Homo sapiens: one gene and its partners. The protein of the gene in region 1 interacts with the protein of each later gene in a biochemical or structural test. Each region holds a gene or a part of one and is shown in the gene's direction. Other genes may lie near its edges.

Region 1 (3,500 bases):
CTTTGGGAGGCTGAGACGGGCAGATCACCTGAGGTCAGGGGTTCAAGAACAGCCTGGCCAACATGATGAAACCCCATCTCTACTAAAAATACGAAATTAGCCAGGCACGGTGGCACGTGCCTATAATCCCAGCTACGTGGGAGGCTGAGGCAGGAGAATTGCTTGAACCCAGGAGGCGGAGGTTGCAGTGAGCCAAGATCATGCCACTGCACTCCAGCCTGGGCAAAAAGAGCAAAACTCCATCTCAAAAAAAAAAAAAAAACTTTGGTTGTTATATGGGCCAAAACCAGTTTTGACCAAGATACGACTCCTCCCTTGGAAAAGTGCGTGTAGTATGGCACCAGCCACGGGAGCCTCCCGCAGGGACACAGCCCAGAGCAGCCCTTCATCGTGCCACAGTGCCGTTCACCAGTGTGAATCCACTCACGTCCCACGCATCAGAAAACCCCCATCAGCCACTCCCAGCTACTCTGGCGGACCGAATGCAGAAAAGGAATGTGCTTTCCCTGCCAAGTTGTTCTTCCCTTTCCATCCCTGGGGAGGGTGTGCAGGACAGAAAGTGTCTGACCTTCTCACTCCAAGGAGCATTTGCTGAGCTGGCGTCCCAGGAAATGTTTGGGAATTGGGCCTCCCAATCAGAGGACAAGCCGTCAGGGCAACCCGGTGCCCTTGTGCCAGTGTCTGCTCCCACCAAGGGCCCTGCCTGTGCAGCCTGGTGACACTGTCCTCTCCTGCAGGTGGTATGGATCACAGCCACCATGCCATACGTGGTCCTCACTGCCCTGCTCCTGCGTGGGGTCACCCTCCCTGGAGCCATAGACGGCATCAGAGCATACCTGAGCGTTGACTTCTACCGGCTCTGCGAGGCGTCTGTGAGTACAGTCTGCTCACTGCTTCACAGTCCACAGGGGCTCTGGCATTCCCAGGTTTCCATATGCATTGCCTGCCAGGGCTGAGAGGTGTCAGAGTTGCAGACACCAGGGTTCTTTCCTCGGGAAGCCAAATCCCAAGTACCTGTGATACAGCACGAGTCATCTAAATCAAATTACATCAGAAACTCCATCTAGACTCAGGCTGCAGCTTTGGTCAGCAAAAGAAGACATAATTCAGGGTTAAAATATTTGGAGAAAGCCTCCCGGAGAGAGGAGACTCAGCTGGGCCATGGGGGATGGGACCCTTGTCCAGAAAGGGAGGAGAAAGGGCTGCACCCTTCCTGGCAAACAGGCCCAGAAACAGAAGCAGCTGTTGGCGGAAGGCTGGCATGACAAAAATGGCAGCTCCCTTGGGGCATCGTTGGAAATCAGGTGGACTAAGTGGGGGAGGTGGCAGGCCCCAAAGCCGCCCAGGGGCATCCATGTTGCTGTGGGAGGACAATGCAGCAAGAGGGGAAGGGCCATCTCAGCTGGGGTATGAGGCAGGAGGCCGTTGAGAGGTGCTGCCCTGTGTGGGTGGGCCGGTGGAGCCAGGTCTGGGGGTCATGAGGCAAGTGTAAACCCAAGGCAGAAGTGGGAAGGAAGGGGAGAAGGGATGGGCGGGCATGGCTGCAAGCCTCCCAGGAAGCCCCAGGGAGGCAGCAGCTGACAGGTGCAGTGAGAGAGGGCACCTGGACATGGCACCTATGAGGCTGCAAAGCAGTTGGGTGGGGGTGGGGGTGGAAGTGTGCCTGCAGCACTGAAGGGGAAGCCCTGTGGAGACAGGAGCCATGGGTGCAGCAGGCGTGTGGCCCACGGGAGCCAAGGAAGAGAGAGGAGGACAACCAGGGCAGCAAAATCAGCTGTGGCCGGGGGCCCACAAGTGCAGAGCTGGAGCCAGACAAACCATGAAGTCAGCAGGGCGTCTGGACCCCAGAAAGGCCAAAATGAAGCCAAGGGGTGTGTTTGCAGGACCATGGCATGTTACAGAATCAAAGAAAAATACCACAAGGACAACGTAGAGCCTAGTGCTCCAGCTAGGAAGAATAGGCAGCCCCAGGAGGAGGCAAAACAAACACCAGTGCATGTGAAAAGATGCTCACTGGAGAACAAATTACAAAGATGAGATGTCAGAAATTAGGTGGAGACAGTGAATAGATTGGATGGATGGATGGATGGATGGATGGATGGATGGATGGATGGATGAATGCTAGGTAAGTAGGTGGATAGGATGGATGGATGATAGGTGGGTAGATAGAATGGATAGATAGGATGGGTGGATGGAAGGCTGGCTGGCTGGATGTATGGATAATGGATGGGTGGATGGAGGAATGGATGATAGGTAGGTAGCTGGATAGTATGGATGGATGGATGATGGATGGATGGATGGATGGATGAATGGATGATGCATGGGTGAATGGGTGGATGAATGATAGGTAGCTAGATAGGATGGACAGATGGATAATGGATGGATGATGGATGGGATGGATGGGTGGATGGATGATGGGTGGATTGCTGGATGATGGATGGCTGGGTGGATGGATGAATGATAGGTAGGTAGCTGGATAGCATGGATGGATGGATGGATGGATGATGAATGGATGATGGATGGGTGAATGGGTGGATGAATGATAGGTAGGTAGCTAGATAGGATGGATGGATGGATGGATAATGGATGGATGACGGGTGGGTGGATGGATGATGGGTGGATTGCTGGATGATGGATGTTTGGGTGGATGGATGAATGATAGGTAGGTAGCTGGACAGCATGGATGGATGGATGGATGATGGATGGGTGGGTGGATGGATGGATGGATGGATGATGGGTGGATTGGTGGATGATGGACAGATGGGTGGATGGATGAATGATAGGTAGCTGGATAGCATGGATGGATGGATCGATGATGGATGGGTGGATGGATGGATGATGGATGGGTGGATGGATGGATGATAGGTAGGTAGATAGGATGGATATACAATAGGATGGATGGAGATAGATACATACACACACATGTACTTCATATATTCATAGATGATAGACAGTTGATAGATTATAGAGATGACAGATAGATGATAGATTGGTGATGGATTGATAGATGACAGTGATAGATGATAGATAGATAGATGATTGATTGATAGATAATAGATGATGGATTGATGTATAGTGAAGAGAAATCAGGAAAGAAATGGAAGGAAAGGACAATTGCAGGTCCTGGAGTGAAAGTGCATGAGGTGAGGCCCAGGGAGGCAGCCATGGGCACTGGCTCTGGTGTGGCACTGGGCAGAGGCCTGAGCTGCACACACAGATCAGGGTGAGGAGGAGGCAGGCGCTCCCCTGTGACACCTGATCCAGCCTGCAGCTACCTGGCCAGGCAGGTGGCTGATGACCAGCATGGGAGCCACATCAGGGTATGAGCCTCTCCACCCACTGCCCACCCAGCCACTCTCGGCTTGGCTCCTCCCCTCATGCTGAAACACTGGCCACCTGCAGAGTCCTGACTGCGGGGCCTGGCCATCTGCCTCCAAACACACTGTCCCAGGAACTGGGGTTGCCTTGAGGCTCTGACATGCTGCCCAAAGGACAGAGGG
Region 2 (3,500 bases), on another chromosome or scaffold:
CGGGCAGGTGGTCAGACAGGAATGTCTGTCTCACTGCTTTTGTGTTTCTGTCCCGTGCTGGAGTTGCAGGTGAACGGGACCGAGGGGGAGATGGAATACGAGGAAATCACATTGGAAAGGGTGAGCAGGCTCCTCCATCGGCAGTCCCCGTGGCCTCCCGTCTGTACCTTTCTTTCTGCCATGTGGTCTGGGTGGCTAGCCCCTCACCCTGTGCCTTCCTCCTCTGGCTGCTCCAAGCCATTTCCCACCCCACTTGCCTTGCCAGACTTGGGCAGTGAGGGGAGCTGACCCTCTTCCCCTCCTTCACCCAGGGTAACTCAGGTCTGGGCTTCAGCATCGCAGGTGGCACTGACAACCCACACATCGGTGACGACCCATCCATTTTCATCACCAAGATCATTCCTGGTGGGGCTGCGGCCCAGGATGGCCGCCTCAGGTGGGGAGAGGAGACAGGGGTTAGGTTGCTTGGTCCCTGGAGAGGGAGGGCCAGGGCAGCAGGAAGCTCTTGGCTCAGGCCCACCTTGCTGCTCCCAGGGTCAACGACAGCATCCTGTTTGTAAATGAAGTGGACGTGCGCGAGGTGACCCACTCAGCGGCGGTGGAAGCCCTCAAAGAGGCAGGCTCCATCGTTCGCCTCTATGTCATGCGCCGGAAGCCCCCGGCTGAGAAGGTCATGGAGATCAAGCTCATCAAGGGGCCTAAAGGTAGTAACTCATTTTGTTCCCACCCCCATCCCAACTGTCCTGTGCCCCCAAGCCTGCTTCCTGGGCACCCACCTCTGGCCTCCCCTCCATCCAGGTCTTGGCTTCAGCATCGCAGGGGGCGTAGGGAACCAGCACATCCCAGGAGATAATAGCATCTATGTAACAAAGATCATCGAAGGGGGTGCTGCCCACAAGGATGGGAGGTTGCAGATTGGAGACAAGATCCTGGCGGTGAGGACTCCATCTAGCCCATTTTCTAGCCCAGATTTGGGTCTCACCTACTAGCCCTGGCAGGCCCAAGTTCATCACTTCACCCCAGTGCTTCTGTCTTGGGCCATTTGTGGCTTTGTCTGAGCTTTGCTTTCCTTGACTCCAGGTCAACAGTGTGGGGCTAGAGGACGTCATGCATGAAGATGCTGTGGCAGCCCTGAAGAACACGTATGATGTTGTCTACCTAAAGGTGGCCAAGCCCAGCAATGCCTACCTGAGTGACAGCTATGCTCCCCCAGACATCACAACCTGTGAGAGCCCTTCAAACACCAAAGTTCCCCATGACCCATCCCGTTTAACCCATGACATGCAGTCCCACGACATCCCTGTAGCTGTCCCTCTTCAGATATTCCCTATGAAATAGCCACAACCTCTGATCCTTGCTGTTGTTGGAGAAGAGATGGAAAATCAATTACCATAAAAGAACTAGAAAAGATCGTCAACGATCTCTCTCCTGGAAGGCACAAAGCCTGGTTGGTTTTATGGCTAATTTTGTGAAATTCTCAAGGAATAGATAATTCTTCTGCTCTTCCAGAGTACAGGAAAAGATAAAAGATTTCACATTTCATTTTATAAGGCCAGTTCGAATGGTCACAAGGATAGTGTAAAATAAGGAGAGTATAGACCCGTTTTGCTTCTGAATAGAGATACAAGAGTTTACAATAATATAGTAGCAAAGCAAACATGGCAGCATGTTAAGGGAATAACATAGGGTTTGTTTCAGAAAACTAAAGATGGCTCAATATTAGGAAATCTCTTAATATGATTCATATATTAAAACGTTACGGGAGGCTAAGTGTGGTGGCTCATGCTTGTAATCCCAGCACTTGGGAGGCCAAAGTGGGAGGATTTGAGACCAGCTAGGGATTTGAGACCAGCCTAGGCAACAAAGCGAGATCCTGTCTCTAAAAAAATTAAAAAAATTAGCACGTGCCTATACTCCTTGCTACTTGGGAGGCTGAGGCTGGAGGATCGCTTGAGCCGAGGAGTTGGAAGCTGCAGTAAGCCAATGATTGCGCCACTGCCCACCAGACTGGGTGACAGAGCGAGAGGAGAAAACGATGTGATTATCTTAAATAGACGTGAAAAAGGCATTTGGTGAAATTCACCATCTCTTTTGGATGAAAGCTTTTAGTAAACTAGGAACACAGAAATTTTCCTTAAGATGGTGAAGACTAGTTATCAGGAACCAGTAACAAACATTTTATAATGATACAATTTTAGCAGTGTGTCCATTAACTTATTTTTTAATTTAATTTTAATTTTTTTCTTGAAATGGAGTTTCGCTCTTCTTGCCCAGGCTGGAGTGCAGTGGTGTGATCTCAGCTGACTGCAACCTCTGCCTCCCAGGTTCAAGTGATTCTGCTGCCCCGGCCTCCCGAGTAGCTGGGATTACAGGTGCCCACCATCACGCCTGGCTAATTTTTGTAGTTTTAGTGGAGACAGGGTTTCACCATGTTGGCCAGGCTGGTCTCGAATGCCTGACCTCAGGTGATCTGCCCTCCTCGGCCTCCCAAAGTGCTGAGATTACAGGCGTGAGCCACCGCGCCCGGCCTCCGTTAACTTACAAAGAGGGCAGGGATGCCTCTTCCCACTGCTATTATTCTTCATTGCTTTAGAGCAGGGTTTCTCAGTGTTACTCCTGACATTTTTGGACCCAATAACTCTTCATTGTGGGGGGTTGTTCTGTGCCTTGTGGGATATTAAGCAGCATCCCTGGCCTCTGTCTATCAGATGACAATGGTACTCCTCCCCCTCAGTCATAACAATTAAAAAATGTTATGACAGAATTGCCCCAGCGAAATTATGGTGGTTGAGAATCACTGCTTTAGAGATTTCAGACAGTGTAACAAGACAAGGAGAATAGTTACATTTGGAAGGGAAAAACAAAAGTTATCTCTATTTGTAAATTATACTACTGTGCATCTAGATCAAAATCTAAGTGAATTAACTGGAAAAATATGCAAAGTTAAGAATGTGGCTATTTGTTGGCTGGGCGAGGTGGCTCATGCCTGTAATCCCAACACTTTGGGAGGCCAAGGCGGGCGGATCACCTGAGGTCAGGAGTTTGAGAACAGCCTGGCCAACATGGAGAAACGCTGTCTCTACTAAAAATACAAAAAAAAATTAGCTGGGTGTGGTGGCGAGCGCCTGTAATACCAGCTAATCCTGAGGCTGAGACAGGAGAATTCCTTGACCCTGGGAGGCGGAGCTTGCAGTGAGCCAAGATCTCACCACTGCACTCCAGCCTGGGCGATAGAGCGAGACTCCATCTCAAAAAAAAAAAAAAAAAAAAACCAAAACAGGCTGGGCGCGCCGGTGGCTCATGCCTGTAATCCCAGCACTTTGGGAGGCCGAGATGGGTGAGTCACCTGAGGTTGGGAGTTCGAGACCAGCCTAACCAACATGGAGAAACCCCATCTCTACTAAAAATACAAAATTAGCCGGGCATGGTGGTGCATGCCTGCAATCCCAGCTACTCAGGAGGCTGAGGCAGGAGAATTGCTTGAACCTGGGAGGCGGAGG
Region 3 (3,500 bases), on another chromosome or scaffold:
CCCAGGCCTTAGGAGTCACTGCACAGCCCAACACTATGCCTCCCAAACAAATCCCCTCCTGTACTGGTGGGGGAAGGGGGTGAAGTGAAAGATGGGGTGAGCCTGGTTCCAGCATGCCAATGGCTGGAGCCCATGCCATACTTGATTCTCGGTTCTGGCTGTGGGAACCTCTTCCCTGCTTGAGCACCAGATCCCCAGGATACTGTTAGAGCCTCTTTAATGACAAAGGCTGCCACTGCTGCTAGTTTTCAGGACTGTGCACAGCTTGCAAAGAGCTAGGATCAAGAATGGTGTTCTGTTGTAGGTTCCAAGGTCTCGGGAAGTGCATGGGACACTTCCCAGAGCAGGTACTTCTTACAGTCTCCCAGCCACATCCCAAGGTAGATCTAGGGCTTAGAAAAGTCATGGTGCTCTACCGTGGCCTGAATTATATGATTCTATAGTGGGAAATTGGACCACAGAAAGATACTCACTCACCCTCTCCCATATTGGGAATTTACTCTCTTCTCATTTTCAGCCAGTCCCACAGCCACACAGGCTGACTGTTCTTCTTTTTCTGGTCAGATTTTGGAGTTTCTTCGTGTGTTACTGTTGAACTCCTGTGTTCTCTCTTGGATAATATGTTTGTAAACAAAAAAGTTACTGAGGTGGATCTTAATCAATTAGAGATTTATTTTGCCAAGGTTGAGAACATGCCTGGGAAAAAGAAACACAAATCACAAGGAGATCTGTACCCTGTGCTTTTTTTTAAAAAGGGTTCTGGGAACTTCAATATTTAACAGGGAAAAAGCAAGCAGGAAGAGGAAGAAAGAAAAAAAGTCTGGGTAGGCAATGAGATAAGTGGTCACATTCTTGTGAGGATCTTACTAATGAGCAGAAAAGCTACATTTTACATAAAGTAAACATGAAATTACAGCTTTTTGGGAATGAAAGGAAGGCAGTTTTTTCATGACTAACTACCTAAACTTAGCCCTTTGGTATAGTGAGTTTGGGGTCCCAATATTTGATTTTGCTTTCATATGTGCAAAGTGTGATTGTCTACACACCATTGTCATTCTTCTAAGTGGATGAAGTACCCTGGAAAAGCATCTAGTCAGCCATCTTGAAAAAAAAACCTGTTGTTTCTTTGTAATATTGCTTTATAAATCTGAGAGAACTTGGAACAAATCTAACAAAATAGAAGATACTTCTGGAGAAGTGAGAAAATTGAGAAAAATGCAACTGATGAGTTCTTGATATGTTTAGCTATTATTATTATCATTACTATTATTAAATGATACTTTCCAGTTGGCAAAAAAGTATTCTGGAGGCTATTCTTTCTACTGGGGCATAAGTCAAACTATGACAAAAGAGAAATGCATGCAGAGAGCAAGCCATAGAAGGCAAGTTAGGAAATGATACGAATATTTATCTGTATTTATTTTATTGAATCAATACTGACAACAAAAATTTCCAACATTAAGTACTTCCAAGTATTAGATACTAAGCAAAGAATTAAATATAGTATCTTATTTAATCATCAGATCAATTAATTATTTCCACTTTAGTGATGAGTGAAGGAAGCTATATATATGGTAATCAACTTGACAAGGATTACCTATTAATAAATAAAAGAGAGGAGATTCAAATCAAGACAGAATTCTGAAGCTAGAACTTTTGTTCTTATCACCTTATAACAGCTCCTGCATGTGTGTTAGAGAGAGAATGAGGGTGAGAAAGAGGAATATATACATTCTTATTTAAACCTATGTGGATAATCGTGTAAATACTCCTTATTATACTAATACTTCTAGTCAATGCCAGTCTCTAAGAGTATCTTATTTAGTTTTTCAGTTAGTTATATATATATTATTACTTGCATATAACTTGATAATGACTGCAACCGTAAAGGAACACAATCTTTTGAAATGTTATAGGCAGCAAAGGTAGAAACTCTAGTAAAAGAAATCTAGTGTCAATGATTTTAGATGATTATGTTGAAAGTAGATCTTTAAAATGATTGAGCTATAGTCACTTTTCACTAAATTTCTGATAAAGGAACCCCTGCTTTTTCCAAAGTTTCTCCTCCTCCCACCCATCCACTCTTAGCCATCTAAAGCTTAGAGTCTATGCTGCCCCCTTCTCACTTAACTCTCCAATATCTTTTCCTGGCAGGTGCATTCTATGAATTTCTTAGCAGGATCACCTGGTCTTTTTCAGGCTTGCACCAGGTTGCTCTTGCATTTGTCTTTAAGTCCTTGATGGTACTACAGTCTCTCCCTACAATACAACTTTCCCCCTCCTACTTTCCCTCAAGATGATTTATCGTTCCTTATTCTGCTTCCTTAGCATGTTACCTCTATAGCACTGTCATATGCTCGTTATTTTAACATATTTCTCTCCCTCACTAAAATGAGACCTGGGTGCTCAGATGCCATTTGCAGTGTGAGTCAGTTCATGAGAAGTATATTATAAATAACAACAGGAAATGGCAAGAAGTTTTCAGAGATGCTGAAACTATATTTGCAGAGTTGATTAGAGGATGCTTTGTCTGAGAGAGAGTCACGACTTGGGTAATATAACAGAAGATCTTAAATTGAGTTTTAAAAGAGCAAAGGAGTAAAGTTTTGCTAAGAGAATAGAAAATCTTACATGAAGTCCATTTTAAGATCCTATTGCTACATGTGATTTATGAAAAGGAAAAAATAACAAAATTTTCTGACTAATAATGACATTAGATAATATTTTTTATTATAAGGAAAATGAAGGGCAATTTAATAAACCATAAAATTGGCAAGGTTTCTGGAAACTGCAACGTTTAGTTATAGATTTTTGCCAATTTATCAATTTAAAAAGCTAAGGTAGATGTTGAAATATCTGCAGTATAAAGAGAGGGCATACTAAAATTTTTGCTATAGTAGCTTGTCATTATACTGTGTTCAAGTCCAAAATTTATAACCAGATCAATCATCCCATGTCCTTCCCTAGCTTCAGCTCTCAATGTTTCTGCCTCCTTTTCTTTGAATTTCTGAAATGCCTGACTTGGCCCCAGCCAGTCCCATCCACTCTCTGGAAAGAACACCCTTTTTCTATACTTTATCTTTGATATTCTACTCGTTTTCAGCCACTGTTTAAAATTTACTTCCTAGAGAACATTTCTCTAGCTTTTCAATCTATTGTGATATAATACCTTTTTCTTCCTCTTCTTCTTCTTCTTCTTCTTCTTCTTCTTCGTGTTCCTCTTCCTCTTCTTCTTCCTCCTCTTTTTCTTCCTCTTCTTCTTCTTCCTTCTTCTTCTTCTTCTTTGCCTTCCTCTTCCTCTTCATCTTCCTCTTTTTCTTCTTCTTTTTCTTTTTCTTCTCCTTCTTCTCCTTCTTCTTCTTCTTCTTTCTCTTCCTCTTCCTCCTCCTCCTCCTCTTCTTCTTCTTCTTCTTCTCCTCCTCCTCCTCCTCCTCCTTCTCCCTCTTCTTCTTCCTCTTTTTGAGATGGAGTTTCCCTCTGGTTGCCCACGCTGGAATGCA
Region 4 (3,500 bases), on another chromosome or scaffold:
ATCATTGTCTGGGTGACCTCATAGCATACACTTGGCCCATTCAAAATTAAATTGGTTCTTATTTTCAGTAAATGTATGTATCTCATAAAATTAGAGGAAATAATATGCATATAGTGTCTGGATCTGGAAAAAGCAGAACTTTTTTTTAGCTTTTTCTGTCTAGCTTAACACAGCCTTTCAACATTCTTAAGAAGTACCTTTAGGGTATTATTCTAGTTATATAGAAGAAAAAATAGAGGCATGATATTGGTTATTGAGGAGTTCTAAATAGTAGTATCTCCCTATTCAGAATGCTTAGATCTTTTCAAGTTTAGTTTAACGTTAAATCTTCTCTAAAAGATGGTGCTTTATTTCATCTTCAAAACAAAATGGAAAATGATTGTATGAAGTAAGATGATTGTATGAAATTAATAATTAACATTTTAATATGTCATTAAAAGATACTTTTTAAAGATAGATCATTGGTAAGTCAGCTAATTTAATTCTTGCAGCCTGAGGTTATAGTTGTGAATATGTTTTTTTTCCCCCTCCTTCCTAAATCGTTTAGTGGGTTTGTTGAAGCAGTTGCTGGTGCAACAGCTAGGTTTGACTGAGAAGAGCGTTCAGGAAGACTGGCAACATTTCCCAAGATACAGAACAGCCTCTCAGGGGCCGCAGACAGACAGTGTCATCCAGAACTCTGAAAATATTAAGGCCTATCATTCTGGTGAAGGACATATGCCCTTTAGAACTGGAACTGGTGACATTGCAACTTGTTACAGTCCACGGACTTCAACTGAATCTTTTGCTCCACGGGATTCAGTGGGACTGGCACCCCAGGATAGCCAGGCAAGTAACATTTTAGTAATGGACCACATGATTATGACCCCAGAGATGCCTACCATGGAGCCAGAAGGGGGTCTTGATGACAGTGGAGAGCACTTTTTTGATGCCCGTGAAGCACATAGTGATGAGAATCCATCAGAAGGTGATGGAGCAGTTAACAAGGAAGAGAAGGATGTTAATTTACGCATCTCAGGCAAGTATCTTTCACACTTAAACTTTGATTTTGATTTTGATCATTGTTAACTGTCCTGTATTTTGAAATGGATGTTGTATTGGTATCCAGGTGTGTGTGTGTGTGTGTGTTCACACATGTGCAATATTTATTCCTTCATTTGATAAATACTGAATCTACTCTGTACCAGACCTCATCATAGGTGCTGGGAGATATAGCAGTGAATAAAACACAGAAAAATCCCATCTTCTCATGAAGCTAGGGGAAAGAAGGATGGTAAATAAGTAAACAAATAAATAGACTTCAGGAAGTATTAGGAAGAAACATAAGTCAGACTGAGGGGACGGAGAGTAATGAAGGCAAACAGGGTGATCAGGGATTAGGACCTCCGATGAGGTAGCATTTGAGCAGAGACCTCAATGAAATGAGGGAATAAAGCCGGGTGGGTACCTGGGAGCTTACTATTCCAGCAGAGAGCAGAGTGGGGCAGAGGCTTTGTGTCAAAGAGCAAGCTTTTTGTGGTGATCGAACACTGGATGAGGGAGACAATGGCAGGAGATGGGGCAAGAGAGGCGTTTGGCAGGGGAAGTGGTAGCAAGATCATTTAGGCACTGTAGTTTCCAGCTTTAAACTTTTGAAATGAAATTTTTTGGAAATTACCATGAAAGTTTGCAGAGTTTAGCTTTCATCTGAAGTGAGGAAATTCTGATGTACCTGAAACTAAACTCAGGAATTAATGGCTTTTCCCTCTCTTAATAACTTTTCAAGTTGAAGTTGTCAGCACACTATGCTATTTCTGTTTTCTAATGGCAGCACTGGTCTTATCAAACTATTCTGTCTCTATCCATAGGAAACTATTTGATCCTTGATGGCTATGACCCAGTGCAGGAGAGTTCCACAGATGAGGAGGTTGCTTCCTCACTTACCCTGCAGCCCATGACAGGCATCCCTGCTGTGGAATCCACCCACCAGCAGCAACATTCTCCTCAGAATACTCACTCCGATGGGGCAATTTCACCATTCACCCCCGAATTTCTGGTCCAGCAGCGCTGGGGAGCTATGGAGTATTCCTGTTTTGAGATCCAGAGTCCCTCCTCTTGTGCAGATTCACAGAGCCAGATCATGGAGTACATTCATAAGATAGAGGCTGACCTTGAACACTTAAAGGTACCTCATACTTCCACATCCATAGGACTTGGTTGTAAGAAACATTTAGCAGAGGGGAAGAATAGGGTGATGAAAATGCTGATGTCAATAAACTTGTTCAGGTTCTAGATTTCTTTGACTATTATCCATGAATAGGCCTGGGTAAAAAGTTGAGATTGGCATTGTTTATCTTTTTCTTTCTTTCTTTTTTTTTTTTTTTTTGAGACGGAGTCTCGCTCTGTCAACCAGGCTAGAGTGCAGTGGCGTGATCTCAGCTCACTGCAAGCTCTGCCTTCCAGGTTCACACCATTCTCCTGCCTCAGCCTCCCAAGCAGCTGGGACTACAGGCACCCGCCCCCACGCCCAGCTAATTTTTTGTATTTTTAATAGAGACGGGGTTTCACCATGTTAGCCAGGATGGTCTCGATCTCCTGACCTCGTGATCCGCCTGCCTCGGCCTCCCAAAGTACTGGGATTACAGGCGTGAGCCACCGCGCCCAGTCGGCATTGTTTATCTTTTGACTATCACAAGAGCAGAAAAAGTTGCAGCTCTGTGAACTGTGTGTTTGTATGGGTGTCTAAGTTTAAGAACCTGAAATGCTTCGGGTAGTTGGCTGGCCTCTGTCAGACATGAACAAGAAGATGAGATAGGTAGGGTTTATGTAGTTATGAATCTAGGCTGAGAAATGCTATGACTTTCTGTAGCCTATTATCTGTGACTCATTAGGTGACATTGGCAGCTTCCCAAATCCTATGACAGATAGAAATTGGCTTCAGTGGCTCCTGTAATCTAAAAACATGGTCATGCATGGGATTTTTGTAGATTGGTAATTGAAGATGTCACTATTGCAAAACTGACTTGTGTGGCAATTTCCAAGAGAAAGACCTATCTTAAAGTTTTCCATCAGAGGCAGGGCACGGTGGCTCACGCCTGTAATTCCAGCACTTTGGGAGGCAAGGCAGGCGGATCACGAGGTCAGGAGATCGAGACCATCCTTGCTAACACGGTGAAACCCCGTCTCTACTAAAAATAAAAAAAATCAGCCAGGTGTGGTGGTGGGCGCCTGTAGTCCCAGCTACTCAGGAGGCTGAGGCAGGAGAATGGCATGAACCTGGGAGGCGGAGCTTGCAGGGAGCTGAGATCACGCCACTGCACTCCAACCTGGGTGACAGAGCGAGACTCTGTCTCAAAAAAAAAAAAAAAAGTTTGCCATCAGAAAACACAGCTTCCAGAGCCCAAACATTTTCCTCATGACATCATTTACACCAGAGACTTGAGGGGTAGATTTAAGTATCCTTAGCCTTTGAGTTAAAGACTGGTCTCCCTTAGTTTCTCTTTTACCTTCATATAATTGAT
Region 5 (3,500 bases), on another chromosome or scaffold:
CCAGGCATGGTGGCTCACGCCTGTAATCCCAGCACTTTGGGAGGCCGAGGCGGGCGGATCACAAGGTCAGGAGATTGAGACCATCCTGGCTAACACGGTGAAACCCTGTCTCTACTAAAAAATAGAAAAAATTAGCCGGGCGTGGTGGTGGGCGCCTGTAATCCCAGCTACTCGGGAGGCTGAGGCAGGAGAATTGGCCTGAACCCAAGAGGCAGAGCTTGCAGTAAGCTGAGATCGTGCCACTGCACTCCAGCCTGGGCCACAGAGCGAGACTCCGTCTCAAAAAAAAAAAAAAAAAGTCTTGAATTTTGTTAAATGAGATACATTCGGAAGGAAAGGGTATTCCTTCATTTTGAATTTAAAGTGAAGGAAATTGTTAGTCAGGCTTGCTCTCTGAAGATACTGTGTTTTTTACAAACTGAAGGTTCGTTGGCAACCCTGCAAGTCGATTGGTGCTATTTTTCCAATAGTGTATGTTCATTTTGTGTGTCTCTGTCATATTTTGGTAATTCTCACAATATTGCAAACTTTTCATTGTTATTCTGTCTGTTATGGTGATCTCTGGTCAGTGATCTTTGATGTTACGATTCTAATTGTTTTGGGGCTCCATGAACTGCACCTATATAATATGGTGAACTTAACTGATAAATGTTACATATGTTCTGATATCTCCACCAACTGGCCATTCCCCAACTCTCTTCCTCTCCCCAGGCCTCCCTATTCCCTGAGACACAACAATATTGAAATTAGGCCAATTAATAACTCTACATTGGCATCTAAGTATTCAAGTGAATGGAGAGTCGCGTGTCTCCCACTTTAAATCAAAAAGCTACAAATGAGTGAGCTTAGTGAGGAGGTCATGACAAAAGCTGAAACAGGCCAAAAGCTAGGCCTCTTGCACCAAACAAGCGAGCTCTGAATGCAAAGGAAAGGTTCTTGAAAGAAACTAAAAGTGCTACTCTGCTGAACGTCCAAATGATAAGAAAGTGAAACAGCCTTATTGCTAATATAGAGAAGGTTTTAGTGGTCTGGATAGAAGATCAGACCAGCCACAACATTCCCTTAAGCCAGCAGAGCAAAACCCTCTCTTCAATTCGATGAAGGCTGAGAGAGGTAAGGAAGTTACAGAAGAAAAGTTGGAAGCTAGAAGAGGTTGGTTCATGAGGTTTAAGGAAAGAAGCTGCTTCCCTAATGTAAAAGTGCAAGGTGAAGCAGCAAATGCTGATATAGAAGCTGTAGCATGTTATCCAGAATATCTAGCTAAGATCACTGATGAAGGTGGCTACACTGAACAACAGATTTTCAGTGTAGATGAAACAGCCTTATATTGGAAGAAGATGCCGTCTCGGACTTTCTTAGCTAGAAGGAAGTCAGTGCTTCACCTCAAAGGCCAGGCTGACTCTTTTGTTTGGAGCTAGTGCAGCTGGTGACTTTAAGTTGAAGCCACTGCTCATCTACCATTCCAAAAATTGTTAAGCGTCATGCAAAATCTACTCTGCCTGTGCTCTATAAATGGAGCGACAAAGCCTGGATGACAGTACATCTGTTTATGGCGTGGTTTACTGAATCTGTTAAGCTCACTGTCGAGACCCACTGCTCAGAAGAAAGGGTACCATTGAACAAGTGCTGCTCATTGACAATGCACCTGGTCACCCAAGAGCTCTGATGGAGATGTACAAGGAAATTAATGTTTTCATACCTGCTAACACAACATCCACTCTGTACCCATGGATCTAGGAGTCATTTCAACTTTCAAGAGTTATTATTTAAGAAGCACATCTTGTAAAGCTATAGCTGCCATAGATAGTGATTGTTCTGATGGATCTTGGCTAAGTAAATTGAAAACCTGGAAAGGATTCACAATTCTAGATGCCATTAAGGGCATTTGTGATTCAAAGGAGGAGGTCAAAATGTCACCATTAACAGGAATTTAGAAGAAGTTGATTCCAGCTCTCATGGATGACTTTGAGGGGTTCAAGACTTCAGTGGAAGAAGTACCTGCAGATGTGGTGGAAATAGTATACTGAGAACTAGAATTAGAAGTAGACCCTGAAAATATGACTGAATTGCTGCAATCTTATTATCAAACTCGAATGGATGAAGAGTTGCTTCTTCTGAATGAGCAAAGAAAGTGGCTTCTTGAGAGAGAGTCTATTCTTGGTGAAGATGCTGTGAGCATTGTTGAAATGACAATGAACGATTTACAATATTCTGTAAACTTGGTTAATAAAGCAGTGGCAGGGTATGATAGGATTGACTTCAATTGTGAATGAGGTTCTACTGTGGGTGAAATGCTACCAAAAGAGAGATCTTTTCTGAAAGGCAGAGTGAGTTGATGTGGCAAACTTCATTTTTTTTATTTTTTTGAGACGGAGTCTCGCTCTGTTGCCCAGGCTGGAGTGCAATGGCACGATCTTGGCTCACTGCAACCTCCGCCTCCCAGGTTTAAGAGATTCTCCTGTCTCAGCCTCCTGAGTAGCTGGGATTACAGGTGCACACTGCCACAGCTGGCTAATTTTTTATATTTTAGTAGAGATGGGGTTTCACTCTGTTGACCAGGCTGGTCTTGAACTCCTGAGCTCACGCAGTCCACCCACCTCAGCCTCCCAAAGTGTTAGGATTACAGGCGTGAGCCACAGCGCCCGGCCTTATTGTTTTCTTATTTTAAGAAATTGCCACAGCCATCCATCTTTCAGCAGCCAGCACCTTGTTCAGTCAGCAGCCATCAACATCAAGGCAAAATCCTCCACCAGCAAAAAGATTATGACTCCCTGAAGGCTCGGATGATCACTAGCATTTTAAAAAAATTATAAAGCATTTTAAAATTAAGAGCTAATGCTATTGCCAACATAATAGACTACAGTATACTGTAAATATAACTTCTATATGCACTTGGAAAGCAGAAACATTTCTGTTACCTTATTGCAGTGTTAGTTTTACTAAGGTGGTCTGGAATGGAACATGTGATATCTTCAAGGTATGCCTACGATTTCAGAAATAACCTCTCCTATTGAACCCTCTGATTCTTCCTGTGTTCAGAAACCCAGACCAAAGTGTAGATTTATTGGTCTTTATTTATGAGTAGTTGAATTTTTTTAATGTCTTGTGTTTTGTTTAAATTTTATGTAAACTGCGGCTTAGCTCTTTCAGCATAGTCTTATGCTTTGCTTTCTTAGATTACTGAGTCTTTAAAAGAACTGGTAAAGTGCATATGTGTGGAAAGATTATTTGCTACCTACTATGAACAGATACTTAAGTAAAAAAACAAAAACAAAAAAACCCAAGATGTTTTTTCCAGGCATATAAATGTTTTTTTCTTGAAGAGGCATTTAGTCTTTCTATTTACTAGAACATTATCAGCTTGCTTTACTTATGAAAGAGAGGAGACCATTCTTTTCTCTGTGAATTTAGGAGCTATTTGTCAGGCTTGTTTATTACTGATTGGGTTGCTTGTTACTGATTGTTAGAGAAGGGAGATGAAAATACATAGCAGTTGCGAT
Region 6 (3,500 bases), on another chromosome or scaffold:
CTTTCTGGAGTGTTTGGGTAAAATCTCCCTCAGAGTCAAAAATATGATACTTGAATCAAAACTGTGGATGTTTTTGAGGCTCTGTTGAGTTAGTGGGTAGCATAAAGAAGGATGTTAAGCTTAGAGACAAGATGTTGATTTTGAACTTACGGAGAAAGGTTTGTTCCGGTGTTGGAGCCCTGCTTGGAACTTTTACCAACCTCAGTGCCAGCCTTGAGAACAGCAAAGGATGGTCTGGCCCAGAAGCTGCCCTAGATAGTTTCCCTGGCCTCAGACCCAGCCTGGCCTCAGCTGAGGCCTTAGGGAAGCTTGCTGTCTCTCCTTGCCCCGAAATTAACCCTCAGTGGCCCTTACTGAACGCTTTTGCTGTTCCTGGGTCAACCATAAAACTCCTCCCATTGGAAGCTGTTTAAGAACTTGTTTATTTCATTGGGCCGGCTCTCTGCTCCTGCTGGGTACTGTTTATTCTCTTCTAAAAGGCAGAAGGATTTATATGTCCTGGAAACTCTCATGTGCAACATTTTTATTTTCTTTTTAAAATAAGCCCTAATGTTTGCTTCTCTGTTATAAGCTGAAGGAGATTAGAAACACTCAGATTTTCAGTACCAGCTCTTCAGCAGCCTAGAACTTGCACAAATGATGTGGCATTCTTTAAATTATCTTAGGTTTCAGTTTTTTTGACACCTGCTGAACGCTTAGGGTTTGTTAGTGCTGTACCAGCATAGACGTTGTCTCTTCTGTTCTACCATGTGAGCTATATTAAGGATTCTCAAGCCTTAGCGTGATTGGAGTCACTGGAGAGCTTAACACAGATTCCTCAGTCTCACCCCTAGAGATTCTGATCCATTAGGGCTGGCCAGGGGCCTGATATTCTGCATTTCCAATGAGCTCCCAGATGATGCTGGTCCTTTAAGTAGCCGCTAAGCTAGACGAAGAGCTTACGCTCAGGTAGATATAGACCAAACATGTATTGGTCTTCACACAGTTATGGTTTCACTGGTCATTGTCTAAACACCTTCCTAAATTTCTTAAGACCAGGATAAAATTTTAAAACCCAGACTGCCTAGGCCGGGCTCAGTGGCTCACGCCTGTAATCCCAGCACTTTGGGAGGCCGAGGCAGGCGGATCACGAGATCAGGAGATCGAGACCATCCTGGCTAACACGGTGAAACCCCGTCTCTACTAAAAATACAAAAAATTAGCTGGGCGCGGTGGCGGGCACCTGTAGTCCCAGCTACTCGGGAGGCTGAGGCAGGAGAATGGCGTGAACCTGGGAAGCGGAGCTTGCAGTAAGCGGAGATAGTGCCACTGCACTCCGGCCTGGGTGAAAGAGCAAGACTCCGTCTCAAAAAAAAAAAAACAAAAAAAACCCAGACTGCCTAGCAGTTAAATGACAGGTAATCATAGCCTAGACAGGCATCTCTGATCTCACTGAGGCCACATCTGAGCTGCAGCAGACTTGGGATTGCTACACTTGAGTGAGTTAAAGAGTTCTGCTCCCAGCCTCAGTTTCCCATCCTGACTTACCCCCTGATTCTTAGAGCAAAAGCACTCCAGAGCAAACATCTTTTTTGCTTTTCTTTCTGGGAAAGGAACAATTCTGGACATAACTTTCCTTGGATTGATTGAAAAACTTGAGATACATCCTCGATACCTTTTGTTCTTTAACCTCCCATCCGGTCTGTCTTTGAATCCTGCGGATTTTACCTCCTAAATACATTTTGAATCTATTCACAGCTCTCCAGCTCACTCAAATGACCACCGTGGTCCAAACCAGAGTTTCTGAATCAGCACTGCCAACATTTTGGAATGGATAATTCTTGGGTGTGGGTGTGTTGTTGGTGGTGGTGGTAGTGGTGATGGGGGTGGGAGGCTGACCTGTGCATTGTAGGATGTTTAGCAACATCCCGGGCATCTACCTACCTACCTACTAGAGGCTAGTAGCGCTTTCCAAGTAGTATCAACAGTATTTGTGGACATTGCCAAACGTCCCTTGAGGGGCAAAATTGGCCTTTGTCTCAGACACTCTTGCCTGGACCATAACTCTTTCCTCTACAAATCTTCTTGCTCCTCTTCAATTCCTTCTTTACCTAGCATCAGGAATTAATCTCTTATAAATGTGTATCTTTTATCACTCTCCCTCAAGCCTCCTATGCTGTCCCATTTCTCTTGGTTGGCTATAAGGTCCAACATGCTCTGGATCCTACCGGCTTCCACCTGCCTGGATTCTTCTCCCCTTCATCCTCTTCTTTCAGCTTCTCATGTCTCTGAGAGTCGATGCATGTGCCCCTGAGCTCCTCTCTGCCTCCAGGCCTTTGCACTTGCTCTTCTGTCTACCTGGAACAATCTTACCAAGTACTCTGCACTAAATAACCTGCAAAATTTCCACTTCTCTCCTCTTGCCCACAGCCTTTCTGTCTGCACTTAGGATTTGCTTATCACTAGACAATGGTTCTTTCTATTCTCATCTCAGCTGAAGCATCACTACCTCTAGGAAGCCAGGCCTCTCGGACCTCGCAGACTACATCTGGTGCCCTGAGACTCTTACTTTGGTTATCCTCCTGCATGGCATTTATCATAGCTGTAACTAAATAAGTGGAAGAGTCTGTCTTGTCCAGTACCATGTCTGTGGCACTAATCCATTGCCATGTGCACTGTAAGCTCTTGATATGTATTCATTTGGTGATGAGTTCAAGATTGAAAGGCCTGTCTTGGCAGTCATCAAAACTTTTCAGGTTGCTAACCAAAAGTGGGCTCGTGTTTAAAAAGAATGAGTTTCTCCGTGATGACCCAGTTAACAAAATTGTTTTCAGGTTTAGGGGAGGCATTATTTTTGTTCCACTAGATCCACCCAGATCAAGTTTTATAAAGCCCCAAATCCTAGAAACTATTTTGTCCTTTTCAGAACTGGAAATAAGTAAATCTGATAGACAATTGTATCAAAAGGTGTTCCAGATGTCCAAACACTTTGAAATGTATCTGTTAGAGTATTCACCATGAAGTATATTTTGTTTCTGAAAAGCTCCTGCACAGGGCCATTCCATAGTATATCTAACAAAACAGCGCACTTCTGCTAAAAAAAAGTTACAGATTGTCACTTCTATTTCATTTCTGTGATTTATAAGGAAAATTAGGATTTGTTTTACAAATATGTTACCCAGCTACACTGGATTAAATGAGTATAACCAGACAATTTGAATTGGCAATTCTGTTGAGATTTGTCTGTAAGTGGCTCTTTCTGTGTTCAGAAATGGTGCTTGCCTCGCTATAAAAATATTTGATGAGTAAGAATCTATTTATAAGGCAATTATGCATTGGACCGTAGACCAAGGAGCTTAAAAGAAAAGAAAATAATATTCATTGAGTTCCACTGGGTGCCATACACTTAAGGTGCTTTCTGTATGTGCATACATTATCTTCTCCATGTTCTTCATTAGATAGACCTCTTTTTTTAATGGGAGTAGCAGATTATGAAAGATTAAGGCTAGAAGTTAGATTCT
Region 7 (3,500 bases), about 130 Mb from region 1:
CATTATCATCAGTAAAGACACCACAGCTAAAGAAGTAGTTTTTCATGCTGTTCATGAATTTGGTTTGACCGGTGCATCCGACACATATTCTCTCTGTGAAGTTTCTGTTACTCCTGAGGGTGTCATAAAACAGAGAAGACTTCCAGATCAGTTCTCCAAATTAGCTGATAGAATTCAACTCAATGGAAGGTGAATAAGCTTATTAGTGGATGTGCTTATTTGTAGATGTGCTTTTGAAGATTTCCTGTTAAAACAGCTATTGTAAGTAGAAACATTATCATGTTTTAGTGCTCCTAAATTCACTCCAGAAGACGCTTGATAAAATATCTTGTCACTCCTGCTAAAATAAACTCTTAGAACCACTGATATAATCTAGTTCCTGTTTTTTTATAGAGGAAGCTGAATGATACAAATCTTCATATATATCTGAATGACTGTATCTACTAATTTATAAATTTGTTTTTAATATGGCCAGTATGTACTTTGGCAAAAGAAGCCATGGTTTTCACAGTTCTTTTTCTAAGTAGTTTTCCTTTAATGAATATGCAGGAAAATTTTAAAAATTTTAAAATGTGTTCTGAAAATTATTTAATAAACTAGATTATTTCTGTAGTACATTTGTTCCTTACTCTGGTTTTTTTTTTTTTTTTTGAGATGGAGTCTCCCTCTGTCGCCCAGGCTGGAGTGCAGTGGCGCGATCTCAGCTCACTGCAACCTCCACCTCCCAGGTTCAAGCGGTTCTCCTGCCTCAGCCTTCTGAGTAGCTGGGACTACAGGCACATGCCACCATGCCTGGCGAATTTTTGTATTTTTAGTAGAGACGAGGTTTCACCGTGTTGGCCAGGCTGGTCTCAAACTCCTTACCTCAAGTGATCTGCCTGCCTCAGCCTCCCAAAGTGCTGGCATTACGAGTGTGAGCTACCACACTCAACCACTCTGAGAATAATCTTTTTGGTAACCCAGTTTCATATGTAGAACAAGATCCCTAGAAAGCTTACAGTGACTGCATGCCATGGTTGCTGTGAAATGAGAATGAGTTAACTCTGTTTTGCTGGCTGTACATAGTGGTTAAGAGCATAGACCCTGGATTCAGATTGCCCACATTCAAATCCCAGCTCTGGCTATGTGACCTTGAGCAAGTCATATGTAGCTTCTCTACCTGAATTTCCTCACCCATAAAATGAGGATAGTAATAGTAGAATATACCTCATGGGAATGTTGTAAGGATTAAATGAGTTACTAAGTATACCATACCTTATAATGTTAAACATTATTATATATAGCATAATGAGTTTCAGCACTATTATTTATGGCATTGTCTTAGGCATATGAACAGTCTAAAAGCAGAAAAAAGAGTTTCTTGACAGTAAAAAATAGATGGATAGATGGATACAAACTTAGGCTTAAATCAAGTTGGATTATTAGAAAAGAACGAAGTAAAAGCAGGTGATACATTACCTCGTTTCCTTAGTAACATCCCTGCACAAGATGTTTCCTGTCTCTTACTTTTAAGTGCTGTAGAATTGTTGATTTAAGAGAAGAAAGCAAAATATAGGTCTTAATGTGTGGTAACTGATAAGTGCCACTTGCTGGAATGAGGTTTTGTATTTAACAAGGGAGAAACCATTAGTGGAAGTGTTTCCCCTCCTCTGTAGATTTCATTCCTCTTGCTTCACTTGGAAATTTATTTAAAAAGGAAGTGAGTGGAGTAACTTCTGAATAGAGATTTTTAACCGTCTTGATTCAGGAATTTATTTTGCCTTAATTAGAATTCATGCTATTCATAAACAAATATTTACATAGTACCAATCCTCTGTCAGATAAAACAGTAAGATAAAAGCTTTACGAGGGCAAGGCCAGTACCTAAAATAGTATCTGACAGATAGTTTCATAAAATAATTAAGTTCATGACATAACAACATTATTTTTACTCTTTAATAGATGCCAGTTGGTAGAATAAGAGACAGACTTCTCAAAAATCTTTTCATTTAAAATGTTAACTTTTCATTTTATCTGTAAATTAATATTTTTGGCTAAAAGTTATTAACAGTAAAATGATATTTTACAACGACAAAAAGGAAAAGTGCTCTTATTTAATCATATTTATGAATACATTTATTTAAAAAAATTTTTCCATTTAGGTATTACTTAAAAAATAACATGGAAACAGAAACCTTATGTTCAGATGAAGATGCTCAAGAACTAGTTAAGGAAAGCCAGCTATCCATGCTGCAGCTCAGTACCATTGAGGTGGCCACCCAGCTGTCAATGAGGGACTTTGATTTGTTTCGTAATATTGAACCGACTGAGTACATCGATGACCTTTTTAAGTTAAATTCCAAAACAGGAAATACTCATTTGAAGAGGTTTGAGGACATTGTAAACCAAGAGACATTCTGGGTTGCCTCAGAAATTTTAACTGAAGCAAATCAGCTCAAACGAATGAAGATTATTAAGCATTTTATTAAAATTGCACTTCATTGTCGAGAATGTAAGAACTTCAATTCCATGTTTGCAATAATAAGGTAAGTTGGTACAAATAGGTACAAATGTCTGTATGGTTTTGTCATTACATGCAGCTGATTTTCTACTTAGGTATTCAATGCCTATGAAAAGAAATGTTCAATTAATATGCCTTTATTGAAGTGTTGTTAGATTTAATGTATTTTCCATTTTGGTGGTATTGGCTTTTTCTATTTTTGTTTCTTCCATCTTTCTTTTACTTCTTTTTTGTAAATGAAAGTGGGTGATTGCCTTCTAATTTTTCTTTCTCTCCCTTCATCTCCAACCCCCCGCCTTGAGTGATTATATCATCTTTGGATATGTGCCCAGTGGCTGGTCTTTATCATTAGACTTCTGTACTGTGCTTTTTTAAGTACCTGCCTCACTATGATTTGACTCTGAAAAATCACAGTATGGTATCAGTACTTTGACCTAAAGTTGCTATTTTGAAACAACAACATTGATAATAATGGCAACCATTTGGTAAGCTCTTCCTGTTTGCCAGGCACTACATGAGGTTCACTGGATGTGGTGTTCCTCAAGCAAGTTAGGCTGTTAGAATAATAAAAATGTTTTGACATTCATAAGCCCAGGAAGTGTAGATAATTACGTGAGCTCTCCCACTCCCTTCTTCCCACTTATTATGAAAAGTTAATTGTAGGTAATTTATTTTCTGATCTTTATTTAGCACACTGTAGATCAACAAAGGGATTCTTCTTAAAACAAGTTTAATTTTAAAAGGGAGAGGAGTTGTAGTTAGCTCCATTTTTAAGGCCATGATGTGCTTATAAATCGCAGCATAATTCCACTTGAACTAATCCTACCTATACACATCCCCCACAGAATTCATAATGATTTGTTTCTACTCCTCATGTAGATTAAGATTAAAAAGTAGAATCTTTATAGGGACTCTTTATTCATGACCCTGTCATGGTAATAGGATGTGCCTTTATTAAATTAACCAGTGTCTACAACTGAACTGAACACTCTAGGAGTAT

The links.
Region 2: the proteins of SLC6A3 (region 1) and DLG4 interact in a test that uses a peptide from one of them, tested with the Homo sapiens proteins (one large-scale study listed by IntAct).
Region 3: the proteins of SLC6A3 (region 1) and SNTG1 interact in a test that uses a peptide from one of them, tested with the Homo sapiens proteins (one large-scale study listed by IntAct).
Region 4: the proteins of SLC6A3 (region 1) and ARHGEF12 interact in a test that uses a peptide from one of them, tested with the Homo sapiens proteins (one large-scale study listed by IntAct).
Region 5: the proteins of SLC6A3 (region 1) and MPP7 interact in a test that uses a peptide from one of them, tested with the Homo sapiens proteins (one large-scale study listed by IntAct).
Region 6: the proteins of SLC6A3 (region 1) and PDZRN3 interact in a test that uses a peptide from one of them, tested with the Homo sapiens proteins (one large-scale study listed by IntAct).
Region 7: the proteins of SLC6A3 (region 1) and RAPGEF6 interact in a test that uses a peptide from one of them, tested with the Homo sapiens proteins (one large-scale study listed by IntAct).

What each region holds. Positions count from the first base shown.
Region 1 is NC_000005.10:1,417,941-1,421,440, reverse strand, and holds part of SLC6A3 (sodium-dependent dopamine transporter), read left to right. Parts: intron 1-737; coding exon 738-872; intron 873-3,500. UniProt on the Homo sapiens protein: Mediates sodium- and chloride-dependent transport of dopamine. Also mediates sodium- and chloride-dependent transport of norepinephrine (also known as noradrenaline). Regulator of light-dependent retinal hyaloid vessel regression, downstream of OPN5 signaling.
Region 2 is NC_000017.11:7,200,628-7,204,127, reverse strand, and holds part of DLG4 (disks large homolog 4), read left to right. Parts: intron 1-60; coding exon 61-120; intron 121-311; coding exon 312-436; intron 437-534; coding exon 535-704; intron 705-798; coding exon 799-935; intron 936-1,080; coding exon 1,081-1,225; intron 1,226-3,500. UniProt on the Homo sapiens protein: Postsynaptic scaffolding protein that plays a critical role in synaptogenesis and synaptic plasticity by providing a platform for the postsynaptic clustering of crucial synaptic proteins.
Region 3 is NC_000008.11:50,698,407-50,701,906, forward strand, and holds part of SNTG1 (gamma-1-syntrophin), read left to right. Parts: intron 1-3,500. UniProt on the Homo sapiens protein: Adapter protein that binds to and probably organizes the subcellular localization of a variety of proteins. May link various receptors to the actin cytoskeleton and the dystrophin glycoprotein complex.
Region 4 is NC_000011.10:120,479,413-120,482,912, forward strand, and holds part of ARHGEF12 (rho guanine nucleotide exchange factor 12), read left to right. Parts: intron 1-547; coding exon 548-1,018; intron 1,019-1,847; coding exon 1,848-2,164; intron 2,165-3,500. UniProt on the Homo sapiens protein: May play a role in the regulation of RhoA GTPase by guanine nucleotide-binding alpha-12 (GNA12) and alpha-13 (GNA13). Acts as guanine nucleotide exchange factor (GEF) for RhoA GTPase and may act as GTPase-activating protein (GAP) for GNA12 and GNA13.
Region 5 is NC_000010.11:28,296,565-28,300,064, reverse strand, and holds part of MPP7 (MAGUK p55 subfamily member 7), read left to right. Parts: intron 1-3,500. UniProt on the Homo sapiens protein: Acts as an important adapter that promotes epithelial cell polarity and tight junction formation via its interaction with DLG1. Involved in the assembly of protein complexes at sites of cell-cell contact.
Region 6 is NC_000003.12:73,618,442-73,621,941, reverse strand, and holds part of PDZRN3 (E3 ubiquitin-protein ligase PDZRN3), read left to right. Parts: intron 1-3,500. UniProt on the Homo sapiens protein: E3 ubiquitin-protein ligase. Plays an important role in regulating the surface level of MUSK on myotubes. Mediates the ubiquitination of MUSK, promoting its endocytosis and lysosomal degradation. Might contribute to terminal myogenic differentiation.
Region 7 is NC_000005.10:131,460,730-131,464,229, reverse strand, and holds part of RAPGEF6 (rap guanine nucleotide exchange factor 6), read left to right. Parts: coding exon 1-189; coding exon of another isoform or gene 190-193; exon of another isoform or gene 194-617; intron 618-2,141; coding exon 2,142-2,525; intron 2,526-3,500. UniProt on the Homo sapiens protein: Guanine nucleotide exchange factor (GEF) for Rap1A, Rap2A and M-Ras GTPases. Does not interact with cAMP.